Linked DNA regions of Homo sapiens: region 1 is linked to region 2. The links come from fine-mapping of genetic effects on gene expression. A gene starts in region 2. The other region holds a variant in brackets. All regions are shown on one strand. Distances are between the middles of the regions. Region 1 overlaps LOC124903913 (a long non-coding RNA gene). Region 2 holds the start of TMEM107 (transmembrane protein 107).

Evidence for each region. PIP is the estimated chance that this variant, and not a neighbour inherited with it, causes the effect. A credible set is the group of variants that fine-mapping cannot tell apart.
Region 1: its variant is the best candidate, but not a certain one, in a credible set for the expression of TMEM107 in blood mononuclear cells (TOPMed, PIP 0.58).

The regions. Positions count from the first base shown.
Region 1 is chr17:8,194,552-8,199,802 of GRCh38, reverse strand. It overlaps LOC124903913 (a long non-coding RNA gene), which reads left to right. Exons shown (of 2, transcript XR_007065604.1): 1 at 1-590. Among named protein-coding and RNA genes, the nearest start is that of BORCS6, 7.0 kb to the right of the region's middle. RefSeq lists an enhancer at 3,467-3,776. The variant A/C (reference allele first, on the strand shown) is at 1,897.
Region 2 is chr17:8,173,867-8,179,349 of GRCh38, reverse strand. TMEM107 (transmembrane protein 107) reads left to right here and starts at 2,970. Exons shown (of 5, transcript NM_183065.4): 1 at 2,970-3,150; 2 at 3,324-3,391; 3 at 3,493-3,593; 4 at 4,734-4,830; 5 at 5,078-5,483. The coding sequence starts at 3,064. The coding sequence ends at 5,147. It overlaps LOC105371520 (a long non-coding RNA gene), which reads right to left and starts at 5,240. Exons shown (of 4, transcript NR_188261.1): 1 at 5,152-5,240; 2 at 4,476-4,574. RefSeq lists enhancers at 2,673-2,792, 2,208-2,819, 2,973-3,022, 3,093-3,182, 3,343-3,392 and 3 more.

The sequences.
Region 1 (5,251 bases), 21 kb before region 2:
TTCTCTGAGAAACAGCAGAACCAAACAGGGGTCTTGTACATTCCAATCACCAATTGCCCCAAGTTACCTCTGTTCACCTATTATCTGTCTTTCCCCTTCTCAAGTCCTGTCAGGGAGCCCCTCCAGATATACTCTGAACCCAGGCCTCCTACTATTCAACAACTTCATTCCAGTAATTGTCCCCTTTCGCTTTTCTACCATTTATATATATATATATATGTGTGTGTGTATACACACACATATCTATATCTATATCTATATCTATATATCCTTTTTTTTTTTTTGGCTGGATAAGTCTCATCACCATGCAAACATCTAGCATCCAAAAAAAAAAAAAAAAATAGGCCAGGGAGTTTGGCTCAGGCCAACTTTATATCTGTAAGCTCTGCCTCAATATCTGTGTGGAGAAGAGTGACGACAGACTGACACAGGCAGCCAAGGTGTTGGAGCAACTCACAGGCCAGACCCCTGTGTTTTCCAAAACTAGATGCACTGTCAGATCTTTTGTTTTCAGGAGAAATGAAAAGATTACTGTTGACTGCACAGTTCCAGGGGCCAAGGCAGAAGAAATCCTGGAGAAAGGTCCAAAGGTATGGGAGTATGAATTATTTTTTCTTAACTTCTCAGATACTGGAAACTTTGGTTTCCAGGAACACAAGAATCTGGGTATCAAATATGAAATCTTTGGCTGCGACTTTCTTTCTTTTTCTTTTTTTTTTTTGAGACAGGGTCTCACTCTGTCATCCAGGCTCAAGTGCAGTGGTGTGATCACAGCTCACTGCAGCCTTGAACTTGTGGGCTCAAGCAATCCTCCTGCCTCAGCCTCTGGAGCAGCTGGAACCACAGGTGCACACCACCACACCCGGGTAATTTTTTTTTCTCTTGTAGAGATGGGGTCTTATTATGTTGCCAAGGCTGGTGTTGAACTCCTGGGCTCAAGCGATCCTCCCACCTCGGCCTCCCAAAGTGCTGGGATTATAGGCTTGAGCCACTGTGCCAAACCCATGGTTTTATTTTTATTTTATTTTTGAGATGGAGTCGCTCTGTCACCCAAGCTGGAGTGCGGTCGCACAGTCTCAGCTCACTGCAACCTCCGCCCTCCGGGTTCAAGCAATTCTCCTGCCTCAGCCTCCCGAGTAGCTGGGATTACAGGCGCGTGCCACTGTGCCTAGCTAATTTTTATATTTTCAGTAGGGGTTTCACCATGTTGGCCAGGGTGATCTTGAACTCCTGACCTCAGGTGATCCACCCGCCTCAGCCTCTCAAAGTGCTGGAATTACAGGCGTGAGCCACTGTGCCCGGCCCAGCCCGTGGTTTTAAATACGACTCCCACATTTGTATTTCTCACCTTGACGTCCCTATCAAGCTTGAGACTAACACATTCTTGGCAATCTAATAGGCTTCTCAAAGTAAGCATGCCTAAAATAGTACTTTTTTTTTTTTTTAGACAGAGTTTTGCTCTGTTGCCCAGGCTGGAGTGCTGTGGCATGATCTCGGCTCACTGCAACCTCTGCCTCCCGGGTTCAAGCGATTCTCCTCCCTCAGCCTCCTGAGTAGCTGGGATTACAGGCACACGCCACCATGCCCAGCTAATTTTTTTTTTTTGTATTTTTAGTAGAGACGGGGGTTTCATCATGTTGGCCAAGCTGATCTCGAACTCCTGACCTCAGGTGATCCCCCGACCTTGGCCTCCCAAAGTGCAGGGATTACAGGCGGGAGCAACCACGCCTGGCCTAAAATAGTATTCTTAATTCAGTGCCCACCCAATCAAAAAAGTTGTAACTTCCCCATCTCAGTCAATAGCACTATCATTTAGCACCCAGTTACTTGGGTCAAAAACCTAGAAATCATTCCTGGTTTCTCTCTTTTTTCTTCCTCACCTCCCCAGATCTTCCA[A/C]CTCTTCCTATTGCCAACCAAATCCATGGAGAGGCCCACCTTTATTACACACACACCCCATCACTCTCATGCTGGTTCAAGTCACCATCCTTTCTGGCTTGGGTGATAACAACCTCCTAACTATTCTCTCTGCTTCTTCTGTTCCTGCCTCCTAGAGTCCATTCCCCCAACAGTCAAAGTCAGAGCATATCATTCCTCTGTTCAAAACCCTCCTTTGGTTTTTCGGTGTATTTACAATAAAATCAAAACTCCTTATCATGGCTGGCAAGGTCCTATCTTCAGGGGTTATCAACAATGGCTGCACATTAGAAACATCTGAAGGACTTAAAAAGAAAATAGGAGACCGGGCGCGGTGGCTTACGCCTGTAATCCCAGCACTTTGGGAGGCTGAGGCGGGCGGATCACGAGGTCAGGAGATCAAGACCATCCTGGCTAACACGGTGAAACCCTGTCTCTACCAAAAATACAAAAAAAAATTACCTGGGCGTGGTGGTGGGTGCCTGTAGTCCCAGCTACTCAGGAGGCTGGGGCAGGAGAGTGGCATGAACCCAGGAGGCGGAGCTTGCAGTGAGCTGAGATCGTGCCACTGCACTCTAGCCTGGGCGACAGAGCGAGATTCCGTCTCAAAAAAAAAAAAACCAAAAAACAAAAAACTCCCAGGCCTTGCCCTAACAAATTCAGATTTCATTGATCTGGGTTGAGGCTGGAGCATCCATGTCGCTTTTAACTCCCCAGGTGGTTCTGAGGGGTTCAGAAGCCCTTCCCTAAGAGTTCTGGTCCTTCCCCACCAATGGATGCTCCTCTGTAACTGCTCTTCCACTTCCATCACTAAAGCTCTGACCTCGGCTGGGCGCGGCAGCTCATGCCTGTCATCCCAGCACTTTGGGAGGCCGAGGCGGGTGGATCACCTGAGGTCTGGGGTTCAAGACCAGCCTGGCCAACATGGTGAAATCCCATCTGTACTAAAAATACAAAAAAAAAAAAAAAAAAAAAAAATTAGCCGGGCGTGGTGGCGGGTGCATGTAATCCCAGCTACTTGGGAGAATGAAGCAGAAGAATCTCTTGAACCCCGGGAGTGGAGGTTGCAGTGAAGCAAGATTGGGCCATTGCACTCCAGCCTGGGCAACAAGAGGGAAACTCCATCTCAAAAAAAAAAAAGAAAAGAAAACAAAGACATCATCTCCTCACACGTGAAAATTCCAAGTATCCAGAGCAAGAGCCATCCCCAAATGTAATGTAAAACCATGGCATAATTCTACATGCCACATAAAACCTGCATTCCACCCCCATCCCACTCAACAAGCCCTACAGACAATACAAGGGCTGATGCCCTGGGGTATGGGGAGAAAACTGTCCTAGTTGACATTCTTCTAAATGCTGAGCATAGCTGACTGGGGCATTTGTTCATTTTTGGGACTTGATGATCACCTTACCTTCCCACTGAATGGATGATGCCAAAAAAAGAAAGCAGAAAAGATATCCAGCCTTGCTTGTTCCCCTGATAGGTCGGCAGATAACTTCTCTCTACTTCTGTGAAGTAATGTGGGCACTGGCAACATTGAGGGTGGGTAATCTGACCCCCACCCCTACTGTGGCCTATGGAGGGGTGAGACCTGTGGATGATCGAGCTTTCACTTTGAGTCAGCATGTCTCACTTTGAATTCCTTCACCATTGCTTATTAGCCATGTGACCTTGGCCAAGTTATTTTTGTATTTTTGTGAGTCTTTTTTTTTGAGACAGACTCTGTCACCCAGGCTGGAGTGTGGTGGCGCTGTCTCAGCTCACTGCAACCTCCGCCTCCTGGGTTGAAGCGATTCTAATAGAGACAGGGTTTCACCATGTTATCCAGACCAGCCTTGAACTCCTGACCTCAAGTGATCCACCTGCCTCGGCCTCCCAAAGTGCTGGGATTACAGGCGTGAGCCACGGCACCCAGCCAGCCACTGCGCCTGGCCTTTTGTGAGTCTTTAAGATGGAAATAACAGTCATTTCTTACGTATAACATGGGCTGTTCCCAATTGCATTAATATACATAGACATCTTGTTTTGTTTTGTTTTGTTTCGTTTGTTTGTTTTGAGATGGAGTCTCACTCTTGTTGCCCAGGCTGGAGTGCAATGGCATGATCTCCGTTCACTGCAACCTCCACCTCCCAGGTTCAAGTGATTCTCCTGCCTTAGCCTCCCGAGTAGCTGGGATTACAGGCATGCGCCACCACACCCAGCTAATTTTTATATTTTTAGTAGAGACAGGGTTTCACCATGTTGGCCAGAATGGTCTCTAACTCCTCACCTCAGGTGATCCACCGGCCTCGGCTTCCCAAAGTGTTGGGATTACAGATGTGAGCCACCGTGCCTGGCCCTTACATAGAAATTTTTACTTTCTAAAAATAATATTTTAAAATGCTGTTGGGGGCTGGGCGCAGTGGCTCACGCCTGTAATCCCAGCACTTTGGGAGGCTGAGGCGGGCCAGGTGGGGCGAGGTGGATCACGAGGTCAGGAGATCGAGACCATCCTGGCTAACACGGTGAAACCCCGTTTCTTCTAAAAATACAAATAATTAGCCGGGCATGGTGGCGGGCGCCTGTAGTCCCAGCTACTGGGGAGGCTGAGGCAGGAGAATGGCATGAACCCGGGAGGCAGAGCTTGCAGTGAGCCGAGATCATGCCACTGCACTCCAGCCTGGGCGACAGAGTGAGACTTCGTCTCAAAATAAATAAATAAATAAAACAAAATAAAATAAAATGCTGTTGGAGGCCAGGCACTGTGGCTGATGCCTGTAATGCTAGCACTTTGGGCAGATCATCTTAGGTCAGGAGTTTGAGACCAGCCTGGCCAACAAGGTGAAACCCTGTCTCTACTAAAGATAAAAAAATTAGCCGGGTGTGGTGGCATATGCCTGTAGTCCCAGATACTCAGGAGGCTGAGGCAGAGAATCGCTTGAACCCGGGAGGCGGAGGTTGCAGTGAGCTGAGATGGTGCCACTGCACTCCAGCCCGGGCAACAGAGCAAGACTGTGTCTCAAAAAACAACAACAATACAACACACAAAAAAAAGACAATACATAAGTGAATGAACATAGCTGTGTTCCAATAAAAATTTATAGACTCTGAATTTTTTTTTTTTTTTTTTTTTTGGAGACAGCGTTTCATTCTGTTGCCCAGGCTGGAGTGCAGTGGTGTGATCTTAGCTCACTTCAACCTCTGCCTCCTGGGTTCAAGCAATTCTCGTGCTTCAGCTTCCCGAGTAGCTGGGACTATGGGCACACATCACCATGCCCAGCTATTTTTTTTTTTTTTTTTGAGATGAAATGTTCTGTCGCCCGGGCTGGAGTGCAATGGAGCGACCTTGGCTCA
Region 2 (5,483 bases):
GGTTCAAGAGATTCTCCTGCCTCAGCCTCCCGAGTAGCTGGGACTACAGGAGCGTGCCACGATGCCTGGCTAATTTTTGTATTTTTAGTAGAGACGGGGTTTCTCCATGTTGGCCAGGCTGGCCTTGAACTCCTGACCTCAGATGATCCACCCGCCTCGGCTTCCCAAAGTGCTGGGATTACAGGCGTGAGCCACCGCGCCCGGCCTAAAACTTTATTAAAAAGATATCTATGTATGTATATATGTGTGTGTGTGTGTATATATATATATATATATATATATTTTTTTTTTTTTTTTTTTTGAGTTGGAGTCTTGCTCTGTTGTCCAGGCTGGAGTGCAGTGGCGCAATCTCGGCTCATTGTAACATCCGCCTCCCGGGTTCAAGCGATTCTCCTGCCCCAGCCTCCCGAGTAGCTGGGAATACAGGTGTGTGCCACCATGCCCGGCTAATTTTTTTTTTTTTTTTTTTTTTTGTATTTTTAAATAGAGACGGGGTTTCATCATGTTTGTCAGGCTGGTCTCAAACTCCTGACCTCAGGGGATCCGCCCGCTTCGGCCTCCCAAAGTTCTGGGATTACAAGCGTAAGCCACCATTCCCGGCCTTTATTATTGTTTTAACAGAGAGAGGTGTCTCACTATGTTGCTCAGACTGGCTTCAAAGTCTTGGGTTCAAGGAATACTTCGCCTTGGCCTCCCAAAGTGCTGGGATTACAGGCATGGGCTTTTGCTTCTGGTCCCAGAGTGCATTTTCTTTTTATTTCTTTTCTTTTTTTTTGAGACGAAGTCTTGGTCTGTTTCCCAGGCGGGAGTGCAGTGGCACGATCTTGGATCACTGCAACCTCTGCCTCCCGGGTTCAAGCACTTCTCCTCCCTCAGCCTCTGGAATAGCTGGGATTAGAGGCGGGCGCCACCACACCTGGCTAACTTTTTAACTTTTTTTTTTTTTTTTTTTTCAGTAGAGATGAGGTTTCACCATGTTGGCCAGGCCGGTCTGAAACTCCTGACCTCAGGTGATCTCCCTGCCTCGGTCTCCCAAAGTGCTGGGATTACATGCCTGAGCCACCGCTCCCGGCCAATTTTTGGCCAAAGTTTCTAAAATAAAGTTTAAGGTTAAATGTCCGGCTGGGCGCGGTGGCTCATGCCTGTAATCCCAGCACTTTGCAAGGCCGAGGCTGGCGGATCACGAGGGCAGGAGATCGAGACCATCCTGGCTAACACAGTGAAACTCCGTCTCTCCTAAAAACACAAAAAATTAGCCGGGCATGGTGGCGAGCGCCTGTAGTCCCAGCTACTCAGGAGGCTGAGACGGGAGAATGGCGTGAACCCGGGAGGCCGAGCTTGCAGTGAGCCGAAATTGCGCCACTGCACTCCAGCCTGGGAGACAGAGCGAGACTCCGTCTCAGAAAAAGTAAATAAATAAAATAAAACAAAATAAATGCTCTATTTTAATAGAATTATAAATGCCCTATTTTTATAGAATTATAATTCTAGCGTTTCTTTTTTTTTTGGAGACGGAGTTGCGCTCTTGTTGCAGAGGCTGGAGTGCAATGGCGCGATCTCGGCTCACTGCAACCTCCACCTCCTGGGTTCAAGCGATTCCCATGCCTCAGCCTCCCGAATAGCTGGGATTACAGGCACGCGCCACCACGCCCGGCTAATTTTGTATTTTTAGTGGAGACAGGGTTTCAGCATGTTGGTCAGTCTGGTCTCGAGCTCCTGACCTCAGGTGATCCGCCCTCCTAGGCCTCCTAAAGCGCTGGGATTACAGGTGTGAGCCACAGTGCACAGCCCGCTTTTCCCTGTTTGTAGCGCCTATTATCTTACGGATTTATTTGTTTGCATGTCTGTTGTTGATCTCCCTGACTAGAATACCCTTACTAGGTAATCAATAAACATATACAAATATTTGTTGAAGGAATGAGAAATGCCTCTTGGGCTTGTAGTTTAGGCTGGCTAAAAGCACTGAGATGGGGAGTGGGGAGTAGGAAGAGATTGTTCTCCTGGGAGATGGGCCGGGAGGTTCCTTGAGGATGGGACTTGACTCAGCAATTAAAGAACTTTCAGATCTGCAGGGACCTGCGCTGAGGCCCAAAGGTCATGAGGTCGCCGATGATAAGAGCTTCTTGGACTGTAGCTGGGCAATGTCGGAGGCCCAGCACCTCCAAGGGACAAAGAAATCTGAGTTGAGTTTCCCTTCCAGCCGGCTCCAAGCCTCCCAGAGACGCAGGGACTGTCCCATTCCCTTCGTCCACTCCCACTCTTTCCAGCCACCTTGCTCTGCTCTTATCCCCATGCTAGTTTAAGGACGCTGGCCATTTTTTGCACTCTGCAAATCCCTCACCAAACTGAGCAAAGTAGTCTGAAAGAAATCAGTCTTCCTCAAGGAAGGTTCAGGCCTGGGGTCCTCAGACAACCAGGGGCTCCGTGACAATCTGTGACTGCAGAGCAGTCCAGGAACACCGGCCTCTCCAGGTTCGGGTCCCTTGTTTCTCAGGCCCAGCTTGGTGGGAAGCTAAAGGCATGCAGAGGAGGGGAAGGGGAGCGGGTCTGAGTCTTCGGCATGGCGGGGAACTCAGCCCGGCGTGGTGGTGGCAGCGGTCTCAAGTGATCCACAACTGGGCAGCGTAGCTGGGGCTGGGGGCCGCTCCCGGCGTGGGCAACAGCAGAAGCATTGGTGTCCCCAAGCTAGGCCAGGGTGGGTTTCCGTTCATCCGCCCTGCGTGGGCAGATCGGGCGCTGCGGGGCTGTGCCACCTCGCACCCTCTGAGGAACAAAGGGCCTGGCTGCGCGCGGGTACCCAGCCGTTAGGTTAGAAGCGCCTTCGGGTACCCCTGACCTTCGCTGGCCCTGAGAGACCCGCAGCAGCCGGAGAATGTACTGCTCGCGAGGATTTCCGAGAACGCGGCGCCGAGCCCGCGTACACGGTTACCAAGGCAACTGGGCGGTGCCTGAGCGGGCGGGAAGGAGGCGTTCGTCTAGATTTGTCGGCTTGCGGGGAGACTTCAGGAGTCGCTGTCTCTGAACTTCCAGCCTCAGAGACCGCCGCCCTTGTCCCCGAGGGCCATGGGCCGGGTCTCAGGGCTTGTGCCCTCTCGCTTCCTGACGCTCCTGGCGCATCTGGTGGTCGTCATCACCTTATTCTGGTCCCGGGTAAGACCCACGGCTGCACTCAATCCGTCCCCATTCCCATCTCTGAGTGGTCCTAGTCCTACCCTGCCCCCTCCCAGTGTCTTACCCTCTTGGGTTTTCTTGTTTCCCGCCGCCCCCAGGCCTGCCCTGCAGCCTGCCCCTTTTTCACTTCTCTTCCTGTGCCCTGCTCCCAGGACAGCAACATACAGGCCTGCCTGCCTCTCACGTTCACCCCCGAGGAGTATGACAAGCAGGACATTCAGTGAGCTCTTGGGACGGGGTGGCCAGAACGAAGAGGTGGTGGGAGTGGAGGGGTCTTAGAATAAGTCCAAAGGCCTGGGCCAGTCCACTTCCTCTCTGCAGGCTGGTGGCCGCGCTCTCTGTCACCCTGGGCCTCTTTGCAGTGGAGCTGGCCGGTTTCCTCTCAGGAGTCTCCATGTTCAACAGCACCCAGAGCCTCATCTGTATCCTTTCTGCCTGCCCACCTTTCCCACACGACCCACTTCTATCAGGACTCCCTTCAGCCACCTGACACAATAGTGTCTGCTGTAGCCAATCCTTCCAGTTCAAAGATCTTCAACGATGTGCTAAATCCTGCTGTTTACTAGGCACTTAAAATCCCAAAATGAGAGTAAAATACAGTTTTTGGCCAGGCATGTTGGCTCACGTCTGTAATCCCAGCACTGTGGGAGGCGCAGGCAGGAGGCAACATAGTGAGAACCCAAGTCTACAAAAATAATAGGAATAATAAAAACCCCACCGTTTCTTTTTACAATGAGGAGGAGGTAGATACAAATCTGTAATTCAGTGTGATAAGCACTGTGCTATAGAAGTGTGTGAAGATAGAAAGCACAGGCAGGGCGCGATGGCTCACGCATGTAATCCCAGCACTTTGGGAGGCCGAGGCAGGTGGACCACCTGAGGTCAGGAGTTCGAGACCGGCCTGACCAACATGGTGAAACCCCCGTCTCTACTAAAAATACAAAAATTAGTCGGGCGTGGCGGCGCACTCCTGTAATCCCAGCTACTCAGGAGACTGAGGAAGGAGAATTGCTTGAACCCGGGAGGCAGAGGTTGCAGTGAGCTGAGATCGTGCCACTGCACTCCAGCCAGGGCAACAGAGCAAGACTCTGTCAAAAAACAAACAAAAGATATAAAGCACAATGGGAACTCAGAAGAGGCAACGGAAGCGAGCACTGGGAACTCAGAAGAGGCAAAGGAGATGAGGCACATGGGTCAGAGAATTGTGGACCAGGAGGACCAGGACACTGGAGGCTGATTCCAGCGCATATTAAGTCGCTGTCAGCACTCCTTTGTGGCATAGCAGAAGGAGAGCCTACTCTTACCTCTCATCTGAAGGATCCAGGCTGGCCCACAGATAAGGGGTAGGGTAGCCTGAGGTCCGATCTGTGCAGTCACTTCTGGTCTCTCCTCACATGACTGTCCTAAAATTCAGAAGTCAGAGCTGCTGACTCTAGCCCTTGAAACATGGTGAGGGAGCAAGGGATGAACCTGAATGCAGATGCCAGCCCCACCACTGGCCTTTTCTGACCCATCACTGTCTGTCGATCCAAAGACTTTCCTTAATCTCGTGCCTTCCCAAGCCATTGGGGCTCACTGTAGTGCATCCGTGGCCCTGTCCTTCTTCATATTCGAGCGTTGGGAGTGCACTACGTATTGGTACATTTTTGTCTTCTGCAGGTGTGGTAGCATCCAATATTTGGGGATGAGGGAGGAAGGTTGGCCCTAAACCTGAAGGTTTTTCCCCTACCCAGCCCTTTCCTCCATGTGTGAGATACCAGATCCACTCAACATCCTGTAGGCTTTTAAAGTTTCATCCCCTACCCCCCATGCCACCTGCCCTACACTTTCAGAGGTGGGGTCTCTGGTTTGGAGATTTGGGTATTTATACTGAAAGGGTTTCTGAATCTACCACTTGCCTTGGTAGTGCCCTTCCAGCTGTCACTGAAATGGCTTTATTCGTCACCGTCTTTGGGCTGAAAAAGAAACCCTTCTGATTACCTTCATGACGGGAACCTAAGGACGAAGCCTACAGGGGCAAGGGCCGCTTCGTATTCCTGGAAGAAGGAAGGCATAGGCTTCGGTTTTCCCCTCGGAAACTGCTTCTGCTGGAGGATATGTGTTGGAATAATTACGTCTTGAGTCTGGGATTATCCGCATTGTATTTAGTGCTTTGTAATAAAATATGTTTTGTAGTAACATTAAGACTTATATACAGTTTTAGGGGACAATTGAGATGGCTGAACTACTGAATAAAAAAAAAACAACGCTGTTTTCTAGTCCTGCAGACCGTAAGATACTTGGTATCGCTTCTATTTTGGTTACTACGGTAG